Linked DNA regions of Homo sapiens: all the other regions are linked to region 2. The links come from fine-mapping of genetic effects on plasma protein levels. A gene starts in region 2. Each other region holds a variant in brackets. All regions are shown on one strand. Distances are from middle to middle.

Evidence for each region. PIP is the chance, under the fine-mapping model, that this variant and not a neighbour inherited with it causes the effect. Protein levels are from antibody-based Olink assays in UK Biobank. Linkage for the fine-mapping came from a reference panel and not from the study's own genotypes, which makes the PIPs less certain.
Region 1: its variant is fine-mapped to the plasma level of the COL15A1 protein (UK Biobank, PIP 0.97).
Region 3: its variant is fine-mapped to the plasma level of the COL15A1 protein (UK Biobank, PIP above 0.99).
Region 4: its variant is fine-mapped to the plasma level of the COL15A1 protein (UK Biobank, PIP 0.99).

The regions. Positions count from the first base shown.
Region 1 is chr9:99,069,678-99,077,783 of GRCh38, reverse strand. It overlaps COL15A1 (collagen type XV alpha 1 chain), which reads right to left. Exons shown (of 42, transcript NM_001855.5): 42 at 6,997-8,106. The coding sequence ends at 7,898. Among named protein-coding and RNA genes, the nearest start is that of TGFBR1, 31 kb to the left of the region's middle. RefSeq lists a cis regulatory region at 1,942-2,660 and enhancers at 5,045-5,545, 5,546-6,046. The variant C/G (reference allele first, on the strand shown) is at 4,721.
Region 2 is chr9:98,943,603-98,951,697 of GRCh38, reverse strand. It overlaps COL15A1 (collagen type XV alpha 1 chain), which reads right to left and starts at 7,791. Exons shown (of 42, transcript NM_001855.5): 1 at 7,626-7,791; 2 at 7,448-7,536. The coding sequence starts at 7,636. It overlaps COL15A1-AS1 (COL15A1 antisense RNA 1), which reads left to right and starts at 7,046. Exons shown (of 1, transcript NR_198999.1): 1 at 7,046-8,095.
Region 3 is chr9:99,544,553-99,552,658 of GRCh38, reverse strand. No RefSeq gene overlaps it. Among named protein-coding and RNA genes, the nearest start is that of NAMA, 170 kb to the right of the region's middle. The variant G/A (reference allele first, on the strand shown) is at 4,762.
Region 4 is chr9:98,876,385-98,884,490 of GRCh38, reverse strand. It overlaps LOC102724684 (a long non-coding RNA gene), which reads left to right and starts at 7,158. Exons shown (of 3, transcript XR_930168.2): 1 at 7,158-7,189. The variant CA/A (reference allele first, on the strand shown) is at 4,410.

The sequences.
Region 1 (8,106 bases), 130 kb before region 2:
TGCCTCAGCCTCCCAAGTAGCTGGGACTACAGGCTCCAGCCACCGCACCAAACTTCTTTTGTTCACTGGTACTTCTCTTCCATCTAATATTCTCTTTTATTCTGTGACTCCTGTTATATAAATATTGAAACATTATGTCTATCTCCTTCCCTCATCTTTTATTTCATGAATTTATCTTTTTGTCTGTGTCCTTTGAGCAATTATATTAATTCTTTTGATCTAACAATTCATTAAATCAGGTTTCAGTAGCATATATGCTGTAGTTCTATTTTATTCTGGTGATACAGTCGTTCTTTTATTTTCAAGGACTGTTTCTTATTCTCCCAGTATTTCATTTCATGCTTCTTTTACTCTCTGAAATTTTACTGAGAATACCAATTTGCTTTCTTTTCCTTGTTTCCAGTGGAGTTGGATGAAAATACAAATTTGAATCTTTAAAAGTTATCTCCTGTTTTCTGTAATCATTCTTTCGAAACAGAAGCCATTGGCTCTGATTAACTGTTGATTCCCTTTTGGAGGCTGCTAGATCTCCTCAAATGATTAATTGGTGTTTGTTGTTCTGTACTGATGTTCATAAATATGAAAGCCCACATTGAAAGGACTGATAGGTCTTCTGGGTGCTGTCAGCAACTGCACAAGTCTCTATGAGCTTCCCCCCAGCCTTTTCCCAGCTTATTTCTGTTTCAGCCTCTACTGGCACTTTCCTGTGGCTATCAGCCTCAGGAGGGACTCGAAGACAGGCCCTGCCTTTGCTGCTGTGGTTATAGGATAGCCAATCATAGCAGGTTTCTATCTTCCAGAAAGTCCTCAAAGTTTCTGCCAGGTTGAGATAGTTCTTCCTTTTTTAACAAGGGGTTGCAGGTCTTTTTTTGTTTGTTTTTTGTTTTTTCTCTGTTGTTTTTATCATTTCAGTAAGGTTTGAGGAAAGTATTGTAAGCTCAAAGTGTTATCTTGAAGTAAACCTTGTGTGACTTCCTGCTAGATTGGGCCTGATACTGCAGTCTCTGGGGTGCCCCGCCCATAAACCCCCAAGTTCCCACTGCCAGCATCCACGTGTCTGCCTGAGAGCATTCTGTGGCAGCTGAGCCCACTCTGTCGTGTGCAGCAGGCCAGAAGTACTGGAATCTCATCCAGTGCCTCGCCCTCCTGTTTTTCAAAGACTGAGAGGGGTTGGTGTATGAAGACCATAACATCCTTGTCCCTTTGGTTGGAAACTCTGAGGTGCCAGACTGCACGGGCTCCCAGAACCCTTAAGAGGACAGTGTGATCTAGTCACTCACAGTGAGAACTAGATGCACCCTTTAAAATCTTCCTTCCCATCCCTGTCTCATTTCTCTGCTCTCTTACCTTGTTTCTTGGGATCGCCTTGCAGAGAAATTAATGAATCCTCCTCTAAAGGGAAACTCAAATCAAAACACTAAGTATGACAGGCTTTCTAGAAAGCTCTCTCCCCTGGTGTGGAGAATGAACTGGAGGAGATGGAACTGTAGAGGCCAGGAGATGTGAGCAACAGTCCTAGGGAAGATAAGAAAAGAGCCAGCACCACATTGCCTCAAGGGAAGACCACCACGTGCAACGCTTTGAAAGGCCGAGGCAGGAGAATTTTGTGAGGCCAGGAGTTCAAGACCAGCCTGAGCAACATTGCAAGACCTTGTCTCTACAAACATATATATGTACTAAACATACATATATTAGTACATATGCATATATATATATATGTATATGTACTAAAAATTAGCCAGGCCTGGTGGCACACACCTGTAGTCCTAGCTACTCAGGAGGCTGAGGTGGGAGAATCACTTGAGCCCAGGAATTAAGGCTGCAATGAGCCATGATCACACCACTGTATTCTACCCTGGGTTAAAGAGTGAGATCCTGTCTCAAAAAAAAAAAAAAAAAAAAATCAAAGTAGTCATCATAAAAATATCCCAACTCTGCAGAGCTTCCTAGCACTTATTTTATGGTTTATTGTTGTTATTTTTATTACTAAGGAGACACTTAGTCAATATCGTTGAATAAATAAAAGATTCCTAGGCTCCTGGCTGGATGGTGGAGCCACTCACTAAGAGAAGGACCAGAGGAAAAGGCACAAGTTTGGAAGGAGAGGAGAGGGAGGCAATTTCCTCCCACAAACATATCAGATAACAGGGTGCTCTGGGTCCTTCTTGGAACTCAGGGCCCCCAGCAGGCTCATGCAGGGGGATGATGAGATGACTAAACAGTCGCTGTGGCATGTGTGCCTGTCTATCAGAAGGAATTCAGCCCTCTTGTCAGCAGCCGCTAATGAGCCAGATGATAACATTTTACTTGTTGGATTATGAAGGGCAGGAGCAGAGGGCCAGGATAGTCCAGACATTCGGGGTCGTGGGACAACGGATATTTACCAACAGCAGGCAGAGCTGTACTGCTATGTATACATTGAGTCCCAGCCCTGTGCCTGAAGACAGGCAGAGAAGCCAGGCAGATTGGAAGACACCAGCTAGGATGGTTGAAGGAGAGACCTTCCCCCAGCTCCTACTGAGAGACAACTGGAACAGGCCAAAGATAGCAAACACTGATTGGACGCTTACACGGGGCCAGAATGCTGTTCCCAGTGCTTCCTGTAAATTAACTGAAAGGAGAGTAGTTTCCATGAATGTCCCCCTTTTACAGATGAAGAAACTGAGCTGCAGGGAAGGACTGAGTGTGGAGGACTATTTTCAGTAACTTGGAGTTTTTCAGTAGCTTGGCTATGATTACATGGTTAGTAGGTGGCAGGACCAAAATTCAGACACAGACCAAGGCATCTCTCTATTTACCGGCCCTATAAATTGGAGTACAAGATGGAAAGCAAAAGGAGAAAATCAGTTAGTGGCTATCAAAGAGGTTTGAGGAGGCTCAGTGGTGTTTTGATGGACCAGGAGCTCAAGGGGTAACCAGAAAAGTACTTCTCCAGCTGTTAGGATAGACAAGGACTGCATGCATGTGCTTGTCCCCCACTGGTAGGGTTTCTGAGGAGGTGGAGAGCAGGTGGCAGGAAATATACAGGAGATTTGAAACAGTCTGTGGCATTAGAATGGACTTAGTAGATTTGAAAAGTGGGGGCATCATTTATCTTTGTACTCCCAAGTCCAAACATGATCCTGGGTACAAATTATTATTCAAGAAATATTTCTGAATGAGTGCACAAATAAACAAAAAACCTGCTTGATCTTTCTCAAACATGGATCCAATACCATCTCTTACCTCATTTAAATATTCCCAAGGTGCCCTACCAGTTGTGAAGCAGCAACATTGTCTCGGAGTTTGTCATCTTGCACCAAGAAGTTTAAGGACAGGGACACATGTGAGTGGGTCAAAGAACGGAAAGTTTAATAGGCAATAGGAAGGTGAGAGGAGAGCAGCCTTCCCTCTCATGAGGAAGAGGTGACTGAAACGGAAAACCTGCAGCAGATTTTATATGCATGCAGGCTTGAGGAGGCGGTGTCTGACTTAAGTAGGGCCCACAGATTGGTTTGACCAGATGCGACGTTTACATAGCACTTGGGGAAGGCTGGTCACCCCACCCTAATCTTATTCTGCAAATGGGCCTTCCACTTGGCCAGCGCCATCTTGTCTGCTCCTTACTGTACACGTGGCTGGCAAAGAGAAGGGAACATGGAGCCATCATTTTGATCATGCCTAGTCCCAGGTAGCCTTCTCCTATTGACACAAGTGCCAGCATTCACCTGTGCAAGCTTCCAGCTTGCTTGTCTATGTCTGCAGCTCAATTTTACAGGCTGCTCTTTGTTAGAAAAGAACATGATTGCCTGGGTGTGGTGGCTCACACCTGTAATCCCAACACTTTGGGAGGCCAAGGCGGGCGGATCATGAGGTCAGGAGATCGAGACCATCCTGGCCAACATGATGAAACCCTGTCTCTACTAAAAATACAAAAATTACCTGGGCATGGTGGCATGCTCCTGTAGTCCCAGCCACTCAGGAGGCTGAGGCAGGAGAATCGCTTGAACCTGGGAGGCGGAGGTTGCAGTGAGCTGAGATTGTGCCACTGCACTCCAGCCTGGTGACAGAGTGAGACTCCATCTCAAAAAAAAAAAAAAAAGAAGAAGAAGAAGAAGAGAAAGAACTTGATTTTGGGGCTGCTTTTCATTAAAAGGAAAACCTTACTGAGGATTCCTGTACCCTCACTATCTGCCTAAGTACTTTCTTCTTAACTACTACGTCAGTTGCAGGATAAAGTCTAAATGCCTCATCCTGGATTTCAAGGCCAGCATGATCTCACCTCTGTCTATTATTTCACTGCAACGTCCCCCACACTTGATCTTCCCTGCTGCTGTGTGTGGTAGAATCTATTTTGTTGGCCCTGTCAACCTTCTATCCCTCATTTTCAGGTCATTGCAAATCCCCATGCATTTTGGATGGAGGAATTATTCCTTCTGCCCAACTCATTTCTGGGGTGGGGGCTGCCAAACACAGTCATGGGCCTGTGATACAGTTGGAACCAATCAGAGTCCTTTCCAGGAATTCGTATCATCCCAGTGGGAGAGGAAGTCTTCTCTTTCCTCTGGAGCCACTCTCTGGGGTGGTGGAATAACATAAGCCTAGAGCTGTTTGCAGACATCTCTGCCGCATGAATCTTGTCCTCACTTGGATGGAAGGAGCCATATTCACAGAAAAAGAGAAGCAAGACAGATAGACATAGTCTTACACACACACACACACACACACACACACACACACA[C/G]ACACATACACACACCGAGAGAGAGAACAGAGTGAGTGACCACATTGTCATGCCACGTTGCTTGAGTCTCTGCATCCCCGTCCTACCTGGTTTCATGAGCCAATACATTTCTTTAAAAAAAACAAACAAACAAAAAAACTTGTGAATTTGAGTTGTGTTCCCTTTATGGACTAATAGAAAGTGTCTTGACTGCTATTCAGCTGTACTGGATTGCTGATGGTTCCCAGAATTCCACGCTGTCTCTGACTTACACCCTTTACAGGTTCAAGAGACACCATGCTAGCCACATGAAGTCCAGGAGGAGACGGGAAATGCAAGGATGGCTCCTGCAGCCCATTCTCCTTGTTCCCTGGGTTTTTCTTCGGTCTACTCTATGTGGCCACGTCCAGGTTGCCAGGGGGATTCTCCTGGACCACCTCCTTCATGCTCTCCCCACATACCTGCTCAGACCCTCTGCTCCTGTGCACCCTCCAGAGTCTGCCACCTTATGGAGCCTGGCCCCTGACATGGGCTGGCAGCTGTTTCTATCCCTCTGGTTCTGTTGCTGGGTAGGGGCTTTGGCTGCTGCAGGCTTCAGACCCTGAGGGTGTGCAGTATGGACTCACAGCAAGTCTCCAAAAGACCTCTAGCACGATAAAGATGAATTACTCGTGACAATTCTTCCCTCCCTTATCATGCCTGAGACTGTTAATTGGCTCAGCATTCAGGCACATTTGAGACATCCAGGCATGGGATAGAGTGAAGGCTTAGAGGCCCTTCCGCCATTGTGTTTCAACTGTGTAACAAGACTCGGATGCTACACATGTCAGGTGTTCAGAGGAGGAAGTATGAGGAAAGGCAGGCAGGTTTGGGAGCTGGGGGATATCACAGATGTGCTGGCCGTTGGCAGAAGGGCCAGGCTAGGCCCGGAGTGTTTAAGGCTTTCCTGAGATGGGGTGGGGCTCCGATGACACAGCCTGCAGAGGAGCCTCTGTGGCTTGTCTGAGTGACCTTGAGGATACCAGGGTGACGGTTTTCAACATGTGACGGGAAAGCTTGGGCAAGGGCTGGTGTTTAGTGAATGTCAGGTCCAGGATTTTGACACTCATTCTCCAAGTCTAAATGGGGCTGGGGCTGACTCAGGGCCTCCTTCTGGGTCAGCCGGTTATACCTCCTCTGGTGCATGGAGAGGCCTGAATGGCAATGCCATAAGCCTCAATACTCTTTCCAGGGTTAGCAAATGAGGTCTCCCTGACTTTGGGCTCCTCCCCAAAACCCCAACTCACATTGCCTCTTCTGTAACTCTGGGCCAGGTGGGCTGTGACAGAAATGGACGGTGTCTGCGCTTCGTGGCCTTGGTAGCCTCCTGCCCGCCTTCCCCTTGCAGTTCCTGTCCATACCAAGCACCCCCAGCCCTCATCACTCAACGGATGGGCTGGTCCTCAAAAACCACCTCTCGGGCTTTCCAGCCTCAAACAGTCTTCATTCTGTGACTCATTAGGAAGATTCTCACCACTCATGTATTTATGCAGCCCCTACATGGAGATTCTGGGCTGCCTTTTTTTCTTTGTTTTTCCTCTTTGATTTCCTTCCTACTTCAAGGATTCTGAGGGCGGATTCACTTTGCTGAGCTTCTGGGCCAGCCCAGCTGAATGGGAGGAAATATCCCAGCATACTTCTTGCCTGGTGATTATGTTTCTCCTAGAGGGTCAGACCAAGAGCCAGAGAATCACATGCTTGCAGCTGGGAGGGAGCAGAGAGGCAGGCTTGCATAGGGGTTCCTTGGGAAGATCATAGGCCCCGACGTGAGGCAGACCCTGAGTCTGAAACCAGCCCTGCCATTCACCAGTGTATGATCTGGAACAAGTAACTCCCTGAGCTTTGACTTTTTTTTTTTTTTTGCATTGTAAAGTAGAGATTAAAAAACTACTTTGCAGGGTTATTATGAAAATGAAATGGGATATATCAGAAGTCTGATATTTAATGACTGGTAGCCAATACTATGCTTGTCTTATCCCAATCTCCTTGAGAGACAGAGGCCGACTTGCCCAAAGTCATGCCCTGAGACGGTGGCAGAATCACAGCTCATCCTGTTTCCCACTCTGAGGCTCTACACAACCTACACTGGCCCCACTAGGTGGAAGACAACAGCCAGGGCAGATGAGCATGATGGGAAAACGTTTCAGTTCTCTGATCATCGCCTGGGGGCAGCACAAGTGGCAGGATTAGCAAACCCACCCCAGGTCTGCTTCCACATCAGTGATGGAGAATAAAGGAACTAGCGGGAAAAAGTCAAATGAAGAAAGCACCCGGAAAAGATGTTTTTATGTTCACTTACATGGAAAAAAAATCCAATTATACAACATGTAGATATATGTTTCTCAGAAAATTCATCTCTATGAACCTGTTTGTTTCAGTCGCAGTTATAATTCAACAATTGCCAAATGGAAGTCATAAAATTGTGGGGTGGGGGTTGGGGAGGAGAGCCGCCAAGGGGAAGGTAGTAATTATGTGCTATTTCTTTTCTAGTTTCAGATTATTTGGAGTTTCAACTTTTCCAGCAAGTCAGAGTTACATAAACAGACACCATACTAAAATATGATTGTGTAAAAATATAAAATTCCTAAAGCATGATGGCAATAATATTTTAGGGAAAAAAACATTAGAGTCTGATAGCATCAGAAAATACAAATAGGATCATTTGAGCAGTCCTGTTTCTGTGTACGAACAGCAGTTGCAAATGATGGATGTACGTGAAAGAAAAAAGCATTTGATCTGTATATAACTTAGAAAGGGTAACATTTCTAAACACTGACTTTATAAGAAAACATGAAGGACATCTTACACTCAACAACAATGGTTTAAAAGGAGGATATAACTGTCTGAAGGATGCAGTGGCAGAATGCCATGGCCTTTGTTTTCAACTTGCTCTTAACCTATGTTGGGATGCGTTCACACTGCTGGGGTTTCCTGCAGAATCTAGCACCAATATATGGATCAGATTTTGTCTTTGATCTGAGTCCTCTATGTCTTCAGTTTTGAGTGTATTGAGGTATGTTTTCTTTGGTTGCTGTTGTAAAGAATATGTAGTAAAAAAAAAAAACTGTAATATTTACAACAATTAAACATTTTAGATTTCAGTGTCAACTCTTCACATAAGAAAAAATTGAAAACTCTTTAAGAATCATCAGAAGGCCATTACTTCCTAGCGTCTGTCATGAAACTGTTTTCGATACATAGGACAATTAGCCGATTAGCACAGCTGTATGCTTTCTGGTCCAGAATCTTCCCCGTGCTCAGCGGGGAGGCAAGTCCCGTGACCGCTGTGTCCGCGGTTCGCCATGCTTCACAGTAGTTATCCACAAGGCGGACGCCATGGGGGCTGGAGCCATGCCAAATGACTTTCT
Region 2 (8,095 bases):
AGCTACTCAGGAGGCTGAGGAAGGAGGATCCCTTGAGCCCAGGACTTTGAGGCTTCAATGAGCTAAGATTGTACCACTGCACTACAGCCTGGGCAACAGAGAAGACCCTGTCCCAAAAAATAATAATAGAATAAAAATGGCACTAGCCTATGCAAAAGCACAGGTGTGGGACGTTGCATGTCCCATTCAGAAGCCTGCCAGTGATTTGATGTGAGCTGAAGTCCATAGGGACTTAGTGTTAGTGGAGGAAGGCAGGGTCCTCTGGGGCCAGGAGCATGACTCCATCTCAGGTACAGTGAGAACCCAGTGAGGGCAATTATACTAGGAAGCATCATGATTAAATAAGAAAAATCCATCTAAATACATAGTAAGAACTGTCCAACCAGTTCTGTTCTTTGATGGGTGAGTTCTTTGGGGGGAAATATTGCCAAAGGAAATAATCCAAAAGAAAAAGGCCATTTGTCTGAAGATGTCCCAGCAGCACTATTTATAATAATGACAAATTGCTAAAGTCCAGCTCTGGACAAAGTGGCCAGCTCTAGACAATTGTCCTTTGGGAGATGGAGACTGCAGGTCAATGAGGCAAAACTTCAGGTGTGACTCCTACCCACATCTCTCTCACTCAGAAAAGCAAATCAGACTGCCAGGGAGCAAGAGTGGGGTGGTTAGAGGGAAGTTCTGCGCTGCTCTGATTCATATGCTTCCCATTAAATCAGGATTTCTCCAGAGAAGATGGTGGCCAAGAAGCACTTGAAAAAATGCGCAACGTCATTTGTCATTAGAAAATTGCAAATAGGCCAGGCACAGTGGCTCACGCCTGTAATCCCAGCACTTTGGGAGGCCGAGGTGGGTGGATCATGAGGTCAGGAGTTCGAGACCAACATGACCAATATGGTGAAACTGTATCTCTACTAAAAATACAGAAATGAGCTGGGCATGCCTGTAGTCTCAGCTACTCGGGAGGCTAAGGCAGGAGAATTGCTTGAACCTGGGAGGTGGAGGTTGCAGTGAGCCAAGATGGGCCGGCCACCAACTCCAGCCTGGGTGACAGAGTGAGACTCTGTCAAAAGAAAGAAAGAAAGGAAGAGAGAGAGGGAGGGAGGGAGGAAGGAAGGAAGGAAGGAAGGAAGGAAGGAAGGAAGGAAGGGGAAGGGAAGGGAAGGGAAGGAAGGAAGGGAAGGGAAGGAAGGAAGGAAGGGAGGGAGGGAAGGAAGGAGGGAAGGGAGGGAGGGAAGGAAGGAGGGAAGGAAGGAGAAAGAAAAAAGAAAGAAAGAAAGAATTGCAAATAAAAACCACAATGAGATGCCATTTTATATCCACTAAAATGGCTATAATTTTAAAAACTGAAAACAAGCATTGGCGATGATGTGCATAATTAAAGCCCTCATACATTGCTGGTGGGGATGTAAACATGGTGCAGCCACTGTGGAAAACAGTTTGGGGGTTCGTCATACTTGAAACACAGAATTATCATATGACCAGAAATTCTGCTCCTAGGTGCAAAGAAGTAGAAACAGGCCGTCAAGCATCCGAATACTTGTATGCAAATGTTCAGAGCAGCACTATTCACAAAAAACAAAAGGTAGAAATAACCCAAATGTCCATCAACAAATGAATGGAAAAACAAAATTTGGTATATACATACACTGGAATATTACTCAGTCATAAAAAGGCATGAAGTACTGACACATGATACAACATGAGTGAACCATGAAAACTTTATGTTAAATGGAAGAAGTCAGACACAATAGGTCATACACTGTATGATTCCATTTTCATGAAATATCTAGAATAGGCAAGTCCATAGAGGCAGAAAGTAGTTTAGTGACTGCCTGAAGCTGAGAAAATGAGGGAATGGGGAGCAATTGATTAATGGGCATAGATATTTCTTTTGGGGTGATGAAAATGTTTTGGAACTTGATAGAGATGTTGATTGCACAATATTGTGAAGGAACTAAATGACACTGAATTGTGCACTTCAAAATGGTTACTGTTATATAATGTAAATTTCACCTCAATAAAAAGTAAGTCTGGATATCTAAATGGTCAATAAACATATGAAAAGGTAATTAATAATTAGGAAAATGGAAATTAAGGCTACAGTAAGATCAAATATGCACCCATTAGAAATGCTGAAGTTAAGCTCAGTGACAAGATCAAGTGCTGGTGAGGATGTGAAGAAATGGAGGCCCTCATTTCTTGGTAGCTGTGTGGATCTGTACAACCATTTAGAAGACATGCTGGCATTGTCTACTCAGTTGGGGGATATGCACACTCTGATTCAGCACTCCACTCGTAGGTATAGAACCAACAGAAATTCATGCACATGTGCACTGAGAGAAATGTACAAGAATGTTCAGAGCGACACTATTACATTAGCCCAAAATGGAAACAACCCAAATGTTGGAGAAGAATGGATAAGTAACATATGCTATGCTAATGCAATGGACTATTATACAGCAATGGCAATGAACTACAGCCACATACAGCAGCATGAATAAATCTCAAAAACTTATTATTCATTGAAAGAATCAGACATGAAAGAATAGATTCTGCATTTAAAAAGTTCAAAATCGAGTAAAACAGAACTTCAGAATTTTGGGATACACACTTAGATAGTAAAGCTATTTTTAAAAAGCAAGAAAGGGATGACTGTTAATGTCAAGGTAATGGTTACCTCAGAGAGAAAGAAGGGAAAATAAAACCACAGCAAAGGGGTTTAGGAGACCTTCTGGGGATTATCCTATATCTTCATCTGGATTACATGTTTGCTCTGTGATACAAGATTGTACTGTACCTTTAGCATGCACTTTTCTGAATGGATGTTGTATTTCACAATAAAACAGTTTAAACATAAGCAAATAATTTGCAATCATCAACACTTTATTAGCAAGAGCAAATTACTTGTGACACCACCATCCCTACCTGGACAATAGCCCCCTTATCTTCTAAAATATTGGGTATTCCAATGACCCTGAAACTTTACCAGGAAAAGGAAGGATTGGTGTTGTCCTCCAGCTCAACCCTGACCATTGGAGGTACAAGAGGCCATGTGGGTGACACCCACTGACAAGTGTCTCTTTTTTTTTTTTTTTTTTTTTGAGACAGAGTCTCCCTCTGTTGCCAGGCTGGAGTGCAGTGGCGCGATCTTGGCTCACTGCAACCTCCGCCTCCCAGGTTCAAGCTATTCTCCTGCCTCAGCCTCCCAAGTAGCTGGGACTACAGGCGCCCGCCACCATGCCTGGCTAATTTTTTGTATTTTTAGTAGAGACAGGGTTTCACCGTGTTAGCTAGGATGGTCTCAATCTCCTGACCTAATGATCTGCCCGCCCCAGCCTCCCAAAGTGCTGGGATTACAGGTGTGAGCCACCGCGCCCGGCCGACAAGTGTGTCTTTAAACAGGATGGTGTAGAAGGATGGGATTGGCTGCACACAGGACATTCTGCATGGTAGATGAGAAGACTTCAGGAAAAATGGCATTACAGTTGTCTGTGGCCCTTTCTTTCTTCCTGTGAACTATGACCCCTTTGGGGCAGCTCTGTGCCCAAATCCTTTCTGTACCCAGCCAGCATGAGGGCCAGCACAGAATGGGTTTGTTGAACTAAACTATGTGAAATAATCAAACCTCAAACTAGAAAAATATTATTTTGTTTTGTTTCCCAACATTTTAAATTAGGACTACAGAGATGAGTGACTCTTGCCTCTCCACTTCGTAGATGGGAAAACAGGCTCAGAGTGGGAAAAGCAACTCATCTAAGTTCATGGAGGAAGTCAGTGAGTGGAACCCAGGTTTTCCAATACCTGAACTTGTGCTGTTTTAGGGCGTGCAGGATATCAGGAAGTTTACAAAGACCCACTTTTTAACAGATCAACTACCTGCAAAAAACCCATATGCATGTGTTCTACCCCTACCTGAGGAGCCCTGTCCTGGGCCCACAATGGCATTCAGGGATAGTAGGGAGAGTCGATCCAGAGACCTGGAGGTGCAGGCAGAACTCTGGACCCATTTTCTGAGAGAATCAATGCCCTAAGAGGCCAGCAGCTTTTAAGTTGTGAGCTGTGTGCCAGCTCTGTACCAGGCTGGCTAGGAACCCCACCTTGAAGCCCCACCAGATCTGGGGCCTAGATGCTCTGGGAAAATACATTCTTTTATTTAAGAAGCAGCTTTATTGAGGCATAGCTTACATTCCATAAAATTCACCCATTTTAAATGTATAGTTAGATTATTTTAGTAAATTTATAGAGTTGCACAACTACCACCACAATCCAGTTTTAGAACACTCCCCAAAAAGTTTCCTCATGCCCCTTTGCAGTCAATCTCTGCTTCTGTTTTCTGTCTCTGTGGTTCTGCCTTTACAGAAATCTCATATATAGGGACTCTTACAATGTATTGCTTTTTAATGTCTGGCTTCTTTTACTTAGCTTAATGGTATTAAGGTTTATCCATGTTGTTGTAGCATTGATCAATACTTCATTCCTTTTTATTGCTGAGTAGTATTCCATTAAATGGATACACCTCATTTGTTTATCTATTCACCAGCTAATGGTGAATTTAACTTTATTTCCAGTTTTGGTCATTATAAATAATGCTGCTATGAACATACATATGAGTTTTTGGGTGGCCATATGCTTTCCTTTCCCTTAAGTAGATACTTAGGAGTGGAAGTTCTAGATTGTAGGGTAAGTATATATTTAACATTTTAAGAAACTGCCAAATCGTTGGGAACATGTATTTCCGCTCATAACAGCCCACTTACAAACATGCTTTCAGAAGCCACCCCACTTAAGCATACAGCATAGTGGTTACAAGTACAGATTCTGGAGTCAGACCCTCTGGGCTCAAATTGTGCTTATATTACTGAAGGCTACATGCCCTTGGGCAAAAGACTGTGCCTCAGTTTCCTCATCTGTAAAAGGGGATAAGACATGGGGTTGTTGTGATGATTGACTGAGCTCATTCATGGCAGGGCACTTAAAACACTGCTGGTTCATAGTGCTATGAAGTCTTGGCAATTGTTTTTTATAGCCAGTTGGGCAGTGGTCCTATGGAAGGAACAGCACCAGCCCAGAAGTTCACAGACGTGAGAGGGCTATTATGGATCTACCCAGTTACAGTCATGCGGCCTTGAGGAAGTCACATCCCCTCTGTAAGACAGAGCCCAATTTACTTCTCAGCACTGCTGGGTGGTGATTCCAGGGACGTGGTGAAGGTGACATTGTGCTTTGAAGACTGCACAATGCCATGCAATGGACTCATGTTACAATTGTGACATTCAGATTGTGGGGCTCATTGGAGACCATGGAACCCCTAAAGCCTTCTCCATCCGTGAAGCTCTTCTAACTACACACTAGGATGGTTAAGAGCAAGGACTCTGGAGTCAGACTGTCTGGTTCAAATCCCACCCCAGCCACTTAGAAGTCTTGTGACTTTGGACCTCTGTTTCTTCATCTGAAAAACAGAGATAGTAACTGTTCTCAGTCCTCACCTCCTGGAGTGGTTGTAAGGATTGGATGAATGAAATATGAACATGTTCACACCTCCACCTGGATATACAAAGTGTTTTATAAGTATTAGGGATATTAAATTGCATTACAAATGCAGTTTGCAGGAGGATAGTTTACATTTTTAGGAATCGTTTCACATCCCCAAAGGGGCACTGAAAACCCATCAGTTGCAAATGGCCCTCCTTAGACCGTTCTCAGCTCCTGAAGGTTTGCTGGCCCTCCCTTTTTACATTATAAATGGGAATAGGGCTTCCTTTGTGTTAGAAACAACAGCCCTGACACTGAGGGATCCCAGAGACACACACAGGAGGAGAAAGAAACACCAAAGTTCCTATCCCCAGATCCATCTTCCTTTTGGGAAACTGGAAGTTGCAGCAAAGTTCACAAAAGACCATGGAACCCAAAGTTGGCCTCTGCCACTGAGTTGGCAGGGCCCTATATCATATGCAAAATTGCAACTTTCTGACATGAGCCATGGGGCTGAGAAGCTAAAACTATACTCCAGCTGCCCTTTGATCTGCAATAAATGCCAGGCTGGACACTCTGGCAGGAAAAGCTATCATCGGATTTGGGTCTTGTTGCCCAGGAGACAATGGGCTGTCTTGGGCTTCTTCAGGCAAACAAAGAGTTAACCAAGGCCACCTTCTCAATCCCGTTTCCTTTGGGCCGACTAGAGGTTGTTTCCTAGACTTTCTGTTCCCTTATTCAATTGAAGATGTGTACTAATCCCCCAAATTCAAAGGGGAGGGGGTCAGAAGCTATAGAAAGCATGGCTCTTCTGCAAAACTGCATGGAGAAAGAGCTGAGCAAGGGCAAGAGCCTACAGACCTGGATTCAAGTCCTGGCTTTTGGACTGGCCACTTTCTAAGCTTCTCTCAACCTCAATGTTATAAAAATACCTGCATTGCGATGGGATTAATAGAAGCCCAAACCTCAGCACCGTGCAATATACCCTTGTAAAAAACCACACATGACCACTCCCTGAATCTAAAATAAAAATAAAAATACTTGCATTGCTTTCCAACACATAGTTACTGCAAGAATCAAGCAGTAATTTCTATCACTTATTTTGTGCCTAGTATATACTGGAATCATGGGAAGCACATTATTTCTAATTTCTCTAATATTCACAACATTTCTAGGAAGGTAAAATGGTCTAATTAATCGCCTTTTTCAGATGGGGAAACTGAGGCACAGAGCGATGAAATCCATTGCCCAAGATCACTCAGCCAGCCACAGTTCAAACCCAGGCAGTCTGACCTTAACCGAGGCCCATTTTAACTTAGGTCTACTTTAACTTATATCTTACTATTCAGCCAACCGCCTGAGTTCTGCTGGAGAAACTGAGGCCCGGGGAACGGAAGGGATCAGATCTCTGGCTTCCAGGCCACAGCTCTTTCCACCACCGGTGGAGCCACTGCCCATGATAGACGTGACCGCTTAGGTAACTCAGAGCTGGGTTAAGCAACCGAGCAATTCAGTTCCGTTATTTCTTGAGCAGCAAAAGCCCCAGATGTCCCTCCCGGTGTTCATGCTTCGCACCTGTGTGCGGAGAGGCACCAGACCTGCCCTTACCAGAAGCCAGCCAGCACGCACAACCTAAGCTGCTGGCGCTGGGTGCGCTGAGGCTGTTGGCGCTGGCGCTGGCGCTGTTTCTGAAGTCCCTCTCTGCCTAAGATTGGAGGCTCCGCACCCAGCTCAGACATCTCGGGTGCCCAGACAACGCTCCAACCGCCCCAGCTGCCCAGGGATCCCATTCACAGCTATAACCCCTGCACTGCCAGGAGGTAGCCGCCCGCGGGACCGCCAGTGCGCACTGAGTGGCAAGACTCCCTTTTATGTCCAGGAATGAGGCACGCATCGCAGCCGCGTCCGCCGCCAAAACCGACTTCCCCCACGGGCGCGGAGGCAGCCGGTGCCACCCTCCGACCGGGTTGCTTACCTGTCGCACCGCGGGTCTGGGTGACAGCAGGGAGGGGCGTGGAGACCGAGAGCAGCATCAGCAGACACCAGCACTGCCCGTTGTTCCTCCTGCAAGATGTGCCCGAGGGAGAAAAGGTGAGGCGGGCAAGAGTATTGGAGGGGCCCGGGACGCGAGGAAGCAGAGAAGCGGGTCTTACCTTGGTGCCATCTCGCGGGTCTGCGGAGCCCCGGAAGGCGCGCGGCTAGTCGAGCAGAGCGTTGGAGCTTAGCGGAGGACGAAGGGTCGCTGAGCGCTGGCCGCCGCGCTCGCCCTTCCTGCAGGGAACAAAGGCGGCGCTCGGCAGCGGCGGCGGCGGGCAGAATCCCGGCTCCCGGCCCGCGCCCCGAGTCACCCGCGCTCTGAAACCCGACTCCGCCGCGCCCTGCGCTCCCCCGCGCGCTGCGCACTCACGCCCGGGGGATACCGGCCGCCCCGGCCGCCTCCCCACGCCCCTTTCCCCCTCGACGGACGTGCGCTCGCCTCTGCTGCCTCCACCCGCGGCTGCCTTATGTAACCTGCGAGGAAAGCCCCGCGCCCGCGTTCGTTGGGGCAAGCGGGATGGGCTCCCTCCCGCCCTTAAGTCTGTCCTGTCGGGGCTGACCCGCAAGAAAGCACTCTTTCACAGCC
Region 3 (8,106 bases), 600 kb before region 2:
CTCTCCTGGATTGCTGTAATGACGTTCACACAAGTCTCCCTTCTTTCATTCCTGTTTACTTTCAGTCTATCCTTATAGGATAGTCAGTATAATCTAATAAAATACAAATCTGACTACACCAAGCTCATTCTTAAAGGATTTAAATAATTGAATGGTATCTATAGAAACATGTCTAGGCTCTTCACATATAAGGGCTTCCATGATCTAATATCTGTAGATGTCTTTGTCTCATCAATCAATCCTCCTACTTGACTCTTTCTGCTTTGGCAACAAGGAACTCCATGGAGTTCACATTCCCCACCACCCCAACCAGGCAGGACTGACTACAGATATTTGCTCATGTTCTTCCCTTGTCTGTAATTCATCACCATTTTTCTCTATCTTTTATGTGGCTCAATCTCAGTCATTCTTTAAGACTCAGTTTATAAGCCCTCCTCATGTTTCTTAGCTGATATTTGAGCCTTTCCTCAGAGCTTCCATAACATCCTGTATATTCCTCTGTCAAATTACTTTACACTGTCTTCTCTGTTTATCTTCCCACCACATTGTATGCTTCTTGATATCTCATTCAATTTTCTATTCCTCTTGCCCTTCCTAGTGCCGGATATCTAGAAGGTGCTTGGAAACACTTTGGACTTGGAATTATACTAGAATTCAAATCCTTTTTCTTCCATGCATTGTTCTAAGACATACATAAGTCACCTTACCTGTCTGAGCCATGCTTCCTTATCTATAAAGATTCTTTTGTTTTTCAAGAAAAAACTAAAGATCAAATGAGAAAACATATAAATATTCCTTGTAAATTATAAAGTACTATGAAAATATTTTATTATATAGAATGTGCAGAAAGATATAGATAAAAAACATCTTTCATGTTATGAATCCTGTACAAATTTCAACAAAACATCATATTTATTAAAAAATCTACATAAGCATTCTTATATCAGTGTGTGCTATGGTTTGAATGTTTGTGTCCCTCCAAAATTCATATTCCTCTAATGTAATACTATTATAAGATGGGGCCTTTTGGGAAGTGATGAAGTCATGAGGGTTCCACCTTCATGAATGAGATTAATGAGAGCTGCCTAGTCTTTTGCTGTTCCACTATTTCACCATGTGAGGACACCTAATTCTTCAATGCCAGACACCAATAAACATCCATGAGCATTAAGAATATTTGGAAAACATGACCTGAACAAATGAACTGAATAAGACATCAGGGTCCAATCTCAGAGAGAAAGAGATATGTGACCTTTCAGACAAATAATTTCAAACAACTGTTTTGAGGAAACTCAATGAAATCTAAGATAACACAGAGAAAGAATTTAAAATACTATCAGATAAATTTAACAAAAAGATTGAAATAAAGAGAATCTGGCAGAAATTCTGGAGTTGAAAAATGCAATTGATAAACTGAAGAATGTATCAGAGTTTCCTGATAGAAGAATTTATTCTGCAGAAGAAAGAATCAGTGAGCTTGAAGACAGGCTATTTGAAAACATACGGTCAGAGGACACAAAAGAAAAAAGAATAAAAAAGAATGAAGTATGCTTACAAGATCTAGAATATAGTCTCAAAAGTCTCAAAATCTAAGAGTTATTGACCTTAAAAAGAAGGTAGAGAGACAGATTGGGGTAGAAAGTTTATTCAAAGGGATAATAACAGAGAACCTCTCAAGAGAAGAAAGATATCAATATTGAAGTTCTATAAGATTATAGAATACCAAGCAGTTTTAACCTAAAGAAGAATATCTCAAATCATTTTAATAATTAAACTCCCAAAGGTCAAGGATAAAGAGAGGATCCTAAAAGCAGCAAGAAAGAAGAAACAAATAACATACCATGGAACTCCAATATATTTGGCAGCAGACTTTTCAGTGGAAACCTTACAGGCCTGGAGACAGTGGCATGGCATATTTGAAGTGCTGAAGGAAAAAAAAAATCTTATGCTAGAGTGGTGTATCTGGTGAAAATATCCTTCAAACATGAGGGAGAAATACTTTTCCAGATAAACCAAACCCGAGGGATTTCATCAACACCAGACCTGTCCTACACGAAATGCTAAAAGGAGTTCTTCAATCTGAAAGGAAAAGTTAATGAGGAATAAGAAATCATCTGAAGGTACAAAACTCACTGGTAATAGTAAGTACACAGAAAAGCAGAGAATGTTATAACACTAATTGTGTTGTGCAAGCTACTCATATCCTAGGTAGAAAGATGAAACGATGAACTGGATCAAAATAGTAACTACAACAACTTTTCAAGACATATCCAGTACAATAAAATATAAATAGAAGCAACAAAAAGTTAAAAAATGGGGGGAGAAAATTAAAGTGTAGAGTTTTCTCTTTGTTTATTTATGCAATCAGTGTTAAGTTGTCATCAGTTTAAAATAATGCGTTATAAGAAATCATTTGCAAGCCACATGAAGAAACATACAATGGATACATGAAAAATAAAAAGCAAGAAATTAAATCATCCCACCAGGGAAAATCACCTTCACTAAAAGGAAGACAGGAAGGAAGGAAAAAAAGACCACAAAACAACCAGAAAACAAGTCACAAAATGGCAGGAGTAAGTCCTTACTTATTAATAATAATATTGAATGTAAATGGACTAAACTCTCCAATTAAAAGACATGCAGTGGCTTAATGAATAAAAAACAAGACCCAATGATCTGTTGCCTACAAGAAATATGCTTCACCTATAAAGGCACACATAGACTGAAAATAAAGGGATGGAAAAAGGTATTCTATGCCAAAAGAAACAAAAAATGAGCAAGAGTAGCTATACTGTATCAGACAAAATTAATTTCAAGACAAAAACTATAAAGAGAAACAAAGAAGGTCATTATACAATGATAAACAGGTAAATTTAGCAAGAAGATGAAACAATTGTAAATATATATGTGCCCAAAACTGGAGCACTCAGCTAGATAAAGCAAATATTATTAGAGCTAAGTAGATAGACCCTGAATACAATAATAGCTAGAGGCTTCAACACCCCACTTTCAGCACTGGACAGATCATCCAGAGAGAAAATCAACAAAGAAACAATGAACTTAATCTGCACCATAGACCAAATGGACCTAGTAGATATTTATAGAACATTTCATCCAATGGCTACTAAATACACATACTTTTACTCAGCACATGGATCTTTCTCAAGTATAGGCCATGTATTAAGCCACAAAACAAGCCTTAAAACATTTTTAAAGATTTGAAATAATATCAAGTATCTTCTCTGATCACAATGGAATAAAACTAGAAATTAATAAAAAGAGGAATTTTACAAACTACATAAACACATGGAAATGAAACAACATGCTTCTGAATGACAAGTTGGTCAATGACTAAATTAATTAAGAAATTTAAAAAATTCTTGAAACAAATGATAATGGAAACACAACATACCAAAACCTATGGGATACAGTGAAAGTATTACTAAGAGGGAAGCTTATAGGTATAAATGCCTACATCAAAAAAATAGAAAACTTCAAATAAACAACCCAATGATACGTCTTAAAGAACTGGAAAAGCAAGAGCAAACCAAACTCAAAATTAGTCAAAGAAATGAAATAATAAAAATAGGAGCAAAAATAAAATTAAAATGAATAAAACAATATAAAAGATTGACAAAATGAAAAGTTGTTTTTTGAAAAGATAAACAAAATCAACAAACCTTTAGCCGGACTAAGAAAAAAAAAAAGACCCAAATCAATAAGATCAGAGATGCAGAGATGAAAAAGAAGACATTACAACAAATACCACAGAAATTCAAAGGATTATTAGAGGCTGCTGTGAGCAACTGTATGCCAATAAATTGGAAAACCTAGAAGAAATGGATAAATTCCTACCAAGATTGAACTATGAACAAATCTAAAACCTGAATAGACCAATAACAAGTAATGAGAGCAAAGCTGTAATAAAATGTCTCCCAGCAAAGAAAGCCCAGGACATGATTATTTCACTGTTGAATTTTACCAAACATTTACAGAAGAACTAATACTGATTCATTCACACTATTCTGAAAAATAGAGGAGGAGGAAATACTTCCAAAAATGTATTCTACAAGGCTGATATTACACTGATACTAAAGCTAGATGAAGACACATTAAAAAAAGAAAAGAAAACTACGGGCCAATATCCCTGGATGAACACTGATGCAAAAATCCTCAACAAAATACTAGCAAACAAAATTCAACAATTCATTAGAAAGATCATTCATCATAACCAAATGGGATTTATCCCAGGGATGCAAGGATGATTCAACATATGCAAGTCAATCAGTGTGATACATCTTATCAACAGAATGAAGGACAAAACCCATATGATCATTTCAATTGATGCTGAGAAAGCATTTGATAAATTTTAACATCCCCTCATGATAAAAACCCTAAAAAACAGGGTAATAAAAGGAACATACCTCATCATAATAAAAGCCATATGTGACAGACCCACAGCTAGAATTATACTGAATGGGGAAAAACTGAAAGCCTTTCCTCTGAGATCTGGGACAAGACAAAGATACCCACTTTCACCAGTTATTCAATATAGTACTGTAAGTCCTAGATCGAGCAATCAGACAAGAGAAAGAAATAAAGGGCATCCAAACTGGAAAGGAAGAAGTCAAATTATTCTTGTTTGCAGATGTTATGATCTTGTATTTGGAAAAAACTAATGACTCCACCAAAATGCTATTAGAAATGATAAACAAATTCAGTAAAGTTGCAGAATACAAAATCAACGTACAAAAATCAATA[G/A]CATTTCTATATGCCAACAGTGGGTAATCTGAAAAAGAAATCAAGAAATTAATCCCAGTTACCATAGTTACAAATAAAATAAAATACTTAGCAATTAATCAAAGAAGGGAAGGATTTCTACAATGAAAACTATAAAATATATTGATGAGAGAAATTGAAGAGGACATAATAAAATGGAAAAATATACCATGTTCATAGATTAGAAGGGTCAATATTGTTAAAATATCCAAACTACCTAAAGCAATCTATAGATTCAAAGTAGTTCCTATCAAAATATCAATGACATCCTTCACAAAAATGGAAAAAAAACAATCCTAAAGTTTTTTTGGCCACAAAAGACCCAGAATAGCCAAAGCTATCCTGAGTAAAAAGAACAAAATTGGAGGAATTATGTTGTATGACTTCAAATTATATTACAGAGCTATAACAACCAAAATGTCATGCTACTGTCATAAAAATAGACACATAGACTAATGGAACAGAATAGAGAACTGAAAAATAAATCCGTTCATCTACAGTGAACTCATTTCCAACAAAGGTGCTAAGAAAATGCATCGAGGAAAGGACAGTTTCTTTAAGAAATGGTGCTGAAAAAACTGTGTATCCATATGCAGAAGAATGAAACTAGACTATCTCTTGCTATATAAAGAATCAAATCAAAATGGATTAAATACTTAAATCTAAGTCCTCAAACTATGAAACCACTAAAAGAAAACTTTGGGGAGACCTCCAGGAAAATGGTCTGGGTAAAGATTTCTTGAGTAATACCCCACAAGCACAGGCAACCAAAGCAAAAATGGACAAATGGGATTGCCTCAAGTTAAAAAGCTTCTGCACAGCAAAGAAAACAATCAACAAAGTGAAGAGACAACCCATAGAATGGGAGAAAATATTTGCAAATTACCCATCTGACAAGGGATTAATAATCAGAGTATATAAGGAGCTCAAACAACTCTATAGGAAAAAAGTCGAATAATCTGATTGAAAATGGGCAAAAGATCTGTATAGACACGTCTCAAATAAAAACATACAAATGGCAAACAGATACACAAAAAGGTGCTCAACATCATTGATCATCAGAGAAATGTAAATCTGAACTACAATGAGATATCATCTTACCCCAGTTGAAATGGCTTTTATCCAAAAGATGGGTAATAACAAATGCTGCTGAGAATGTGGAGAAAAGGGAATCCGCATACACTGTTAGTAGGAATGTAAATTAGTACAACCGCTATTCAGAACAGTTTGGAGCTTCCTCAAAAAACTAAAAATAAAACTACTATACAATCCAGCAATCCCACTGCTAGGTATATACCCACAAAAAAGGGAATTAGTAAATATCAAAGTGGTATCGGCACTACTATGTTTATTGCAGGACTATTCACAATAGCCAAGATTTGGAAGCATCCTGAGTGTCTATCAGCAGATGAATGGATGAAGAAAATTTGGTACATATTCACAATGGAGTACTATTCAGCCATAAAAAAGAATGAGATACTGTCATTTGCAGCAACATGAATGGAAGTGGAGGTCATTATGTTAAGTGAAATGAGCCAGGCACAGAAAGGCGAACTTTGTATGTTTTGACTTATTTGTGGGAGCTAAAAATTAAAACAATTGAACTCATGAAGATAGTAGAATAATGGTTACCAGAGGCTGGGAAGGGTAGTGGAGGAGTGGGGGGAAAGTGGGGCTGCTCAATGAGTCCAAAAACAAAATAGAAAGAATAGATAAGTTCTAGCATTTGATAGCACAACAGGATGGCTATAGTCAATAATAGTTGTATTTTAAAATAACTTAAAGAGTATATAATTGGATTGTTTGTAACACAAAGGTTACGCTTGAGGTGATGGATGCCCCACTTACCCTGATATGATTATTATTCATTGTATACCTGTATCAAAATATCTCATGTGCCCCATAAATATGTACACATACTATGTAACCACAAAAATTAGAAATTAAAAAAGAAGAGAAATAATATTAATCAATAAATAAGATTCAGTAACAGATAAGTATACCATTTCCCTTAAACCTTGCTTTACAAAAAGGCAATAGGAAGTCACTGAAGGTTTTGGAGTAGGAAATTGACATAATTAAAGTAGCATTTAACATTTTTTAAAGAAGAAAGAAAAAGTGCTTTCAAAAGAGAATATCAAGGGTGCAGCCAAGAGACCCTTTTGTTAAGAAGATTAATATGGCTAGAAGGAAGCCAGGTGCTGTTCATCAAAATAAAGAAGAATGACCCTGAAGGCATTTTAGAAATCTTTAAGGCTGGCATTCTTATCATAGGCCCAGAGGGCCAGGGATTTGAGGTCAGTTTCAAGGGAAGGACTGAGGATGCCCATGGGACCTAAGGGCTCACTGTCCAAGGATGCCTCATGTTTCTTTCCATGCATTCCAGCACAGGGGTCTTCAGCCAGCCCAGATATGGCTGCAATGGTGCAGTATGATGTGCCATCACATCCCCACCCTACCCCAAGAAGGGCACAGGCTGTAAACCTTGGTGGTGTTCATGTGGTGCAAACTCTGCAGGCACACAGAATGTAGGAGCTGTGAGGACAGGAGCACCACAGAGTCTCCATTAGGGCAATGTCTACTGGAGCCATGGGGTAGGGCTACCCCTGAGACTCCAGACTTAGAGCTGCCAGCATGCAATTACAGACTGGGAGAGCTGAGGCAGGGACTGCTCCCAGCAAAGCTACAGGGGCAGGGTTGCTTGAAGCTTTCAGAGCCCAACCCCTGCCCCAGTGTGTCTGGAAGATGGAATATGGAGTCAAAGAAAATTATTCTCCAGCCTTAAGATTTAATATTGTTTGTCTTGTTGGATTTTGGACTTTCTTGGGACTTGCTACCTGTTTCTTCTTCCCTGTTTGTCCCTTTTGCAATGGGAATGTCTATTCTATGCCATTCCACCGTGTATTTTAGAAGCATATAACTTGGTTGATTTCACAGGCTCACAGCTGGAGGGGAATTTGCCTCAGGATGAATTGTGTCTTGAGTTGCACCCATATCAGATTTAGAAGAGTTTGGACTTCGACTTTAAAGTTGATGCTGAAATAAGTTAAGACTTTTGGGGCTATTTGGTTGGAATGAATGTGTTTTATTTGTGAGAAGGACATGAATTTTTTGAAGCAGGAAGGGGCAGAATGCTATGATTTGAATGTTTGTTTCCTTCCAAAATTCATGTTGAAACTTAATCCCTAATGCAATAGTATTAAGATATGGGGCCTTTTGGGAAATGACTAAGTTATGAGAGCTCTGTCCTCATGAATGTGCCTTCGGAGAGCTGCCTGACTGTTTTTATTCTTCAACCCCTCCACCATGTGAGGATACCTATATGTC
Region 4 (8,106 bases), 67 kb after region 2:
GAGAAGGATTGAGTCTGAGGTCAAATGAGAGGTAGAGGGGAGAAAACTCCAGCAAAATGTGGAACAGTGGAAAAAGGCCTGGGCTAAAGACTTGGGTTCTCAATCCAGTGATACCAACAAGTGATTGTACAAGCCTGAGCAGGTCCCTTCCACCCACTGAACTTCGGCTTCCTCACCTGAAAAATGAAGATGATAAGTCATATTCTAACGAGCACACATTGTTGTCATTTTGATCAAATAAAATAATATAAATGAAAGTGTGTCCCAAAGTGTAGAATGCAACCAAAATACAAGAGGATTATTATGATTATTGCTAGCAGTCCTTTGAGGACACTTAATTTATGACTCCCCAAGGAATCAAGTCAGAGCATAACATGAGGTCAACACACCTAGGGACATAAATGTCAGAAGTGGCTTGTTATAAAACTAATTGCTATTTCGTGGATTCACTTATAATGATCCCAGCAACATTTTTCCAGGCAGAACAATTTTTTTTCTCTGTCATCAGGTCTCTCCCTCTTCCCACCCATAATCAATCAGGGCTTTCAACTAGGGTCACCCCTACCCTATCAAAACCTGCTCTCAAGGAATTATCCATTGACTGGCACTAAAGAAAAAGTTCCAATAAAGCTTGAAATGCTTCCTTCCCAGGGTTGCTTGCCACTCTTCAACCAAGGATCAAATCCTCTGCCAAAGGAGAGGATGTCTCATGGGGTATTGGGGACACAAGGATCACATTCAAAGCGGTACTGAAAGGAGGTTGTCTCATGGAGGGTTGGGAGCACGAGGATCACACTCAAAGAGGTGCTGAAAGGAGGGTGTCTCATGGGCAGTTGGGGGCACAAGGAAACACTCAAAGAGGTATTGAAATGAGGGTGTCTCATGGGGTGTTGGGGGCATGAGGAGCACACACTGAAAGAAGTCCTGAGAGTGAAACGAGCCAGTCACACAAGAATAAACATCATATGATTCCACTTACAGGAGGTCTCTAGAGAAGTCAGATTCATAGAGTCAGAAATTAGAATGGTGATTTCCAGGGCCTTGGAGGAAGGAATGGGAAGCTGTTGTTTCATGGGTACAGAGTTTCAGTTTTGCAAGATAAAAAGTTTTCTGGAAAATTCTGGATGGTGGTAATGGTTGCACAACAAACAACATGTGTGTACTTAACACACTGAAGTATACTCTTAAAATAATTAAGATGGTAAATTTTATACATATGTTAGTAGAATTACTCATGATGATGATGATGATGATGATGATAAATAGTATCAAAGAAGTTCAGATTCAGGGTGCTTGTCTTGGTGCTCTAGAAATCACCCCACAGAGGGAGCCTGTTATACACACACTTGTGCTCACTTGTACACACACACTTGCACATGTACAGACACACACAGCCCTGCCCAACCTTCTTCTGTCAGCTAGGCAAGGAGAGCTGAGCCCAGTTATTTGGGCCAGTTTAGGGTTCACTCTGGAACTTTTAATAGTCAAAGAAATCTTTGTTCTCACTGTGCGACCATTTCTCATCCCAGTTAGCTCTTACATAAGACATATTTCGGATCTGATATATTGGGGAGAAAAAAAACATTACCCATTTTACTCATTTTGAATAAACTAAAAATAACTATCTTTCCCATTTCCTGGAGTCAATAACGACTGTTTAGAAAGGACAGGGGAAAGAAAGACATGGAATATGGGGAAAAAGCCATGGGCTGAGCATACAGGAGCCTGCTTCAAAACCTGTCTTTCCCCCTCATCTGCTGTGTGACCTTGGGCACATCCCTGACCCTCTCTGGGCCTCAGGCACCTCGTCTATGGAATGAGAGGGCTGTGTTGGAATCCTCTGGCCTTTGAGGTCCCTTCAATTCTCATAGTCTAGTTTTTGGTGAGAAGTAGGACTAGGGGTTGAGGCATCTTATTTTGCTGGCCATCTAGTAGATGAATCATTTTTATTATTCCAAAAATTTTCCAAATGAATTTTGATGTGATCCTTCTTGGTAAGAAACAGCTAATGACATCTCTCCTCCCATTCCTGGTCTAGTGTCTAGAAATAGTCTCCGTGAGTAATTTCTACTCACAATTCCCACTTCCTTGACTCCTGCTCCCTCCCCTGCAGTCTGGTTTCCGACTCCCCAGTCCTTTAAAACTGTTCTTGTCAAGGTCACCATAACCTCCTGTGACTGAGTCCAATAGACATACCTCAGTCCTTTTCTTCCTTGGCCTTTCAGGAACATCTCAACACAGGTGAACACCTTCTCTTTCTTGAGATACTCTCCTCTGTGGGGCTGAGAGGGAAAATAGCCTGCCCTCCTGGAGTCCCCAGGGTCACCACTAGGATTTGAGTGCCCACCATGTTAGTGCCAAAGTCTGTAACTAGTACAACATGATTTGCGGCCACTTGCCTTCCTGTTGCGCTCACATTGCCACCAAATTCTAGATTCACTGGGTGATTCATTTCTTCAGTCATTCAACAACGATTTGTCCAGAGCCAACTATTTCCCAGGCACTATGTGAGGCAATGGGAATACGGTAAGGCCAGCATGGCCTCTGCCCTCCTGGCATTTATAATCCATTGCAAGAGCCAGGCATCAAATGGGAGAGGACGAGACCCATGTATAACTACAAATATGATGAGTTCTCCAAAGAAAAAGCACCCGGGGCTCTGAAAGATGAGATGGGGGACAGACAAGGCATCAGGATGGAGAGTGACAGGACACCAAGATCTGAAAGAGGGGAGGCAGCCAGCAGGAGCAGTGGGTGGGGAGGGCGGGAGTGCAGCAGGCACAGGGGACTGCCAGCACCTTGAACGGGGGACCTGGATGGCTCAACATCATCACACACCAATAGCACCCTGAATTTCTGAGATGGAGGGTTTGGGAGATGCACATGAAGATGCTGGAGGAGCTAAACCCCCACCCTGCCCTCCCATCCTCACCCACTGGGGCTGCTTCTTGTCACCCTTGGACAATGCAAGCTCCAGAAGAGGCTGTAGTTTGGACTGCTGAAGGGTCTGAAAGGGGTCAGGGTGAGTGAGAGGACACAGTAAGGTGGGGTGCAGGAAGAGGACAACCCAACGAGTCATCCAGTTATGCTTTGGAAAAAACAGTCCACTGATCTGTGGAGACTGGGGGCAAGGGGTGGGAGGAAGGGTAAATCATGGATGCCTCTTCTTTTGTTAAAAAAATTATTTTTTTTTGAGATGGAGTCTTGCTCCGTTGCCCAGGCTGGAGTGCAGTGGCATGATCTTGGTTCACTGCAACCTTGCCTCTCGAGTTCAAGCAATTCTCCCGCCTCAGCCTCCCAAGTAGCTGGGATTACAGGTGCGTGCCACCACACCCGACTAATTTTTGTATTTTTAGTAGAGATGGGGTTTCACCATGTTAGCCAGGCTGGTCTCAAACTCCCGACCTCAGGTGATCCACCCGCCTCGGTCTCCCATATGTTTTGTTTTACTTATTTATTTTGTTAACTTTTATTTTAGGGTCAGGGGTATATATGCAGGTTTGTTATATAGGTAAATTGAGTGTCACAGGGGGTTGCTGTACAGATTATTTTGCCACCAAGACAATGAGCATAGCACCCAACTCACCCTCCTCCCATCCACTACCTTCAAGTAGGCTCCTGTGCCTGTTGTTCCCCTCCTCGGGGCCACGTGTCCTTGATGTTTAGCTCCCACTTACAAGTGAGAGCATGTGGTATTTGCTCTACTGTTCCTGCTTTAGTTTTCTTAGGATAGTGGAGGGCCAATTCTTTTGTGCTGACCTTGCTTGGTTCCAACAGGCATAGAATTATAAATATTTTGCCAAGAGGGAGAACACAAAATGCTTTTCCTCAGCATCGTTGTTGAGAGTGGGCTCTCCTGGCCTCATCACTAAGCCCTCGAGGCCCTTCAAGATGACCTGATCCCATGTCCTCCATGCACAGATGAGGACAGAACACCGCAGCTGGGGAGGTTCAGGACCTCCCCACGGCCACGCAGCTGCCAACTGGCCCAGGCAGAACACAAGTCTGCATGACTCCAAAGTCCACAGCTGTTCACACATCACCTTAGATGCCACCTGGGCCAGCCTGCTCTGTTTTACAGATGAGGAAACTGAGCCTCAAAGAGAGGGAGCCACTTTCTCCAGGAACAGACCTCCATCTCTGGAGGCTCAGCTCTGCTCCTTCTGCTCCAAGCTGCCTCCTTGTAGGTGGCAGAAGAGAAAGTGTCCCCTAAATAAATGCCATGAGCATGCAGCTGTGAACAAAACAATGTCCCCGAGCTGGGTGTCCAACGTCCCAAGGCCATGTGAGGAAAGAGGTTGTTGCCTTTCCGAGAAGGGGGCAGCTGCTGTGGAGCTGGAGCATTGCTCGGCCTCCAGCCTCTCCCAGGAACATAAAACTCAGGAACGAAGGAACGTTGGGCAGGAGCC[CA/A]TGGGAATGAGGCCCACATTCCCCTCTCCAGGGGCTGCCTTGGCCGCTGATTATGCTCCCAACAAAATCCTTGCTGAACATCTGTATCGTGCAGGGAACTGATGCCTGGCCTCCCCTGCCATAAGGGGCTCGGCACAAGACCCCAATTCTGGGGCTGTCACCTCTGACCCCACAGAGACCCTGACTCTCAGCGGCCATATTCTGACCCTGAAAATCTGGAGTGAGTTAGGGAGAATTTAGACAGATGTGGCTCCTTCCAGTTTCCTGTGGAAATTAAGTGAAACCAGGAGGCATCTCATTCAGGGGAAAAGATGAGAGATGTGAGGAAAACAGAGGAAATAAATACATGAGGTGTTTGTTTGCAAAGCAGTTGTTTCTTCCATGCTCAGCACTCCTCAGAAGGGAGCTGACTTCTGGCAGGGCACTTTGCTGCAAAGCAAGTCCCTGATCAGCTGTCTTCCACCCCTCACTCCCACCACAAAGAGCCCACAGCTCTTTGCGCTCAATGCTCCTGCACACTTCTAGTACTTTGCACAAGCTATTTCCTCTGCTTGGAATGCTGTTCCCTCTCTTCTCTTTCTGGAGAACCTCTATGCAGCCCACATGGATCAACTCAAGACGTAATCCTCTGACTCCCTTCCTCCCACCTTTCCAAGCAAAAGAGGTGGCTGCTTCTTTGAGTCCACCCATCACCCTGTAAACCCCTCCATGGTGATCTTGTCACATGGACTTGAGGGCATGTCTACATGCCCTCTGTCTCCCTTGCTAGTCTACAGCAGACAGTGTGTCTTAATCATCTCTGTATCCACAGTGCCTGGCAGAAAGCCTGGTACAGAAAATGAACTCAATAAGCGTTCAAAGTTTGGATAGAAGGAGAGGGGAGAAATGGCAGGAGGGAAGGAAAGAAGCAGAAGTAAAGAAAAAAAAAATTGGCTTTAGAGTATTTGCAAGTCCCTCTCTTCTTCCCTATTGATTTGAGCCTGTATCTGCCTCTTCTAAATAAAATGCCTCAAAAAAACTCATTGATTAGGCTGTGACAAGGCTCAGCTGAGCAACACATATAACACGGCGTATGCAGAATAGGAGTTCATCTCTCACTCACATGAAAGTCCTTCTGGCCAGATGTGGTGGCTCATGCCTGAAATCCTAGCACTTTGGGAGGTCAAGGTGGGCGGATCATGAGGTCAGGAGTTTGACAGCAGACTGACCAACATGGTGAAACCTCGTGTCTACCAAAAATACAAAAATTAGCCGGGCGTGGTGATGCGCGCCTGTAATCCCAGCTACTCTGGAGGCTGAGGCAGGAGAATTGCTTGAACTCGGGAGGCGGAGGTTCCAGTGAGCTGAGACTGCACCACTGCACTCCAGCCTGGGTGACACAAAGAGACTCCATCTCAAAAAAAAAAAGAAAAAAAGAAAGTCTTTCTGAGGAGGCTGAGGCAGCTCTTTGAAGTCATCAGGGGCCCAGGCTGCTTCTGTCTTATTGCTCTGCCATCCCAAGGGGCTGTACTCATCCAGGTATCCCAGATAGCGCCCCACACATCTATGCTCCATCCACGGAGCAGGTAACGAAAGAGGACACACTCCTCTCTTCAAAGGCACAACTGGAAATTGAGTACAAGAGTCCCTCTTATCTGTGGGGGATGCGTTCCAAGACCCCCAGTGAATGCCTGAAACTGCAGATAGTACCAAACCTATATACACTATGTTTTTCCTATACATACATACCTATGATAAAGTTTAATTTATAAATGAGGCACCGTGAAAGACTAGCAATGTAACTAATAAAATAGAACAATTATAATAATACACAGTAATAAAAAAATATGTGAACGTGACTTCCCTCTCTCTCTCTCGCTCTCTCTCTCTCTCTCTCTCTCTCTCTCTCCCCAAATCACTTACCGTTCTGGACTTTGGGTAACAGAAACTGTGGGAAGTGTGGATAAGCAGAGACTATTGCACGCTGCTTGCCCAGTCCTTCCATGTAGCGCAAGACAGGCTGGGAATTATGGTCTCATGCTGAGCATCTGCACACCAAGGTGAAAGTTTTATTTCCATGTAAAAGGGATGAAATGGATTTTGGAAACAACCAGAAATCTTTTCCAAAACAACAACACACAGAAAGAGAATACCCTTCCAAGCCCCAACATTGACCTTATACATTTCACCATCCCAACAAATCTGTGAGGAAACTGAAGCTCAGGGTGGAAATGCCTTTGGCTGAGGGCACTATGAGCAGTAAAGGAGCATGATTGAAAACCAAATATCTGGTATAAACTGGGATTTCCATCTAAAACCTCACAAATACTACAAAGAGGAAAGGGGAGATGTGACTGCACAGCTGTTTACAGGGAGACAATCTGGGAGTCTGAGTTGACCCCCAGCTCAGTGTATCTGCTGTGTTATGTTTGTCTCCAGAGCTACATTAATGGGGGCCAACATCCAGAACAAACGGGATGAGCGATCTGCTCTCCTTGGGCTGGCCAGACTGCACCTGGAATTCTGTGTTTTGGGGGCCAGCCCTTAATGAGAACAATGAGAAACAGGAATGGGCCTGGGGCCAAGACAGGCTGGGAAGGGTCTGGATGCCCGCCCTGCGAAGAAAGAGCCACAGCTGAACACCATGGAGAGGGGCGAACTCCAGGGGATGTAGATCCTTAGCTTCTCATCTGTGTCACAGAGAGGACATGGTGACCTCATTCCAGGTGGCTCTGAGGAGCAGAACAATGACCCATGGAAAGAAGCCACTGGGAGGCAGAGTCGGCTCCAATAAAAAGAGGTAACTGGGGTGGTGCACCGAAGCCCCGGGCAGGCACGGCAGAAAGTAAGAACTCATCCCCCAGGGTGTGCACCAAGGGCGGAGGTGCTGTAGAGCCTTCTAAGGCAGAATCTTGCACCTGGAGGCTCCTGCAGCTGAGAATGGTCAGGTGTGTCTATGTGTGTGTGCACACAGGTGTGCTCTCCTAGTGACAGGGGCCATGGCTCCCTTGAGGCTCTCCAAGGAGTTTGTGACTCAAACCAGGGTCAATGGACTGGCCCACTGGGTCCTTCCAGGGCCCCTGCCTGCTTTAAAATCCCATGACCAGGCCGGTCGCCATGGCTCATGCTTATAATCCTAGCACTTTGGGAGGCAGAGGTGGATGGATCACTTGAAGCCAGGAGTTCGAGACTAGCCTGGCTAACATGGTGAAACCCCATCTCTAGTAAAAAAAAAAATACAAAAATTAGCCAGGTGTGGTGGCATGCACCTGTAATCCTAGCTACTCGAGAGGCTGAGCCAGGAGAATCACTTGCACCTGGGAGGCAGAGGTTGCAGTGAGCCAAGATAGCACCAGTGCACTCCAGCCTGGATGACAGAGTGAGACTCTGTCTCAAAAAAAAAAAAAAAAAAAAAATCCCATGACTGCCAGTGTAGACGCACAAGTGTCCCGATGATGAAGAATAGGTAAAGAGAGCTCAGAGTGGCAGAAGGAAACTGGGGGCTTACCGGGACTGAAAATGGCTCTGTGAGCTCCACTCCCCAGAGCAGAGTGTGCCCCAAAATCCAACCGCAGGAACCACCCACTTGGCAAGCTTGGAGCATATGCTCCTCCCCTTGCTGAGGCTGGAGTATCTCCAGAACCCCATCTGCAAAGGGTCCAGGGGTTCCACATTCATCACACACCAGCCTTGGTGCCTGGTATGGGTGTGGCCTTT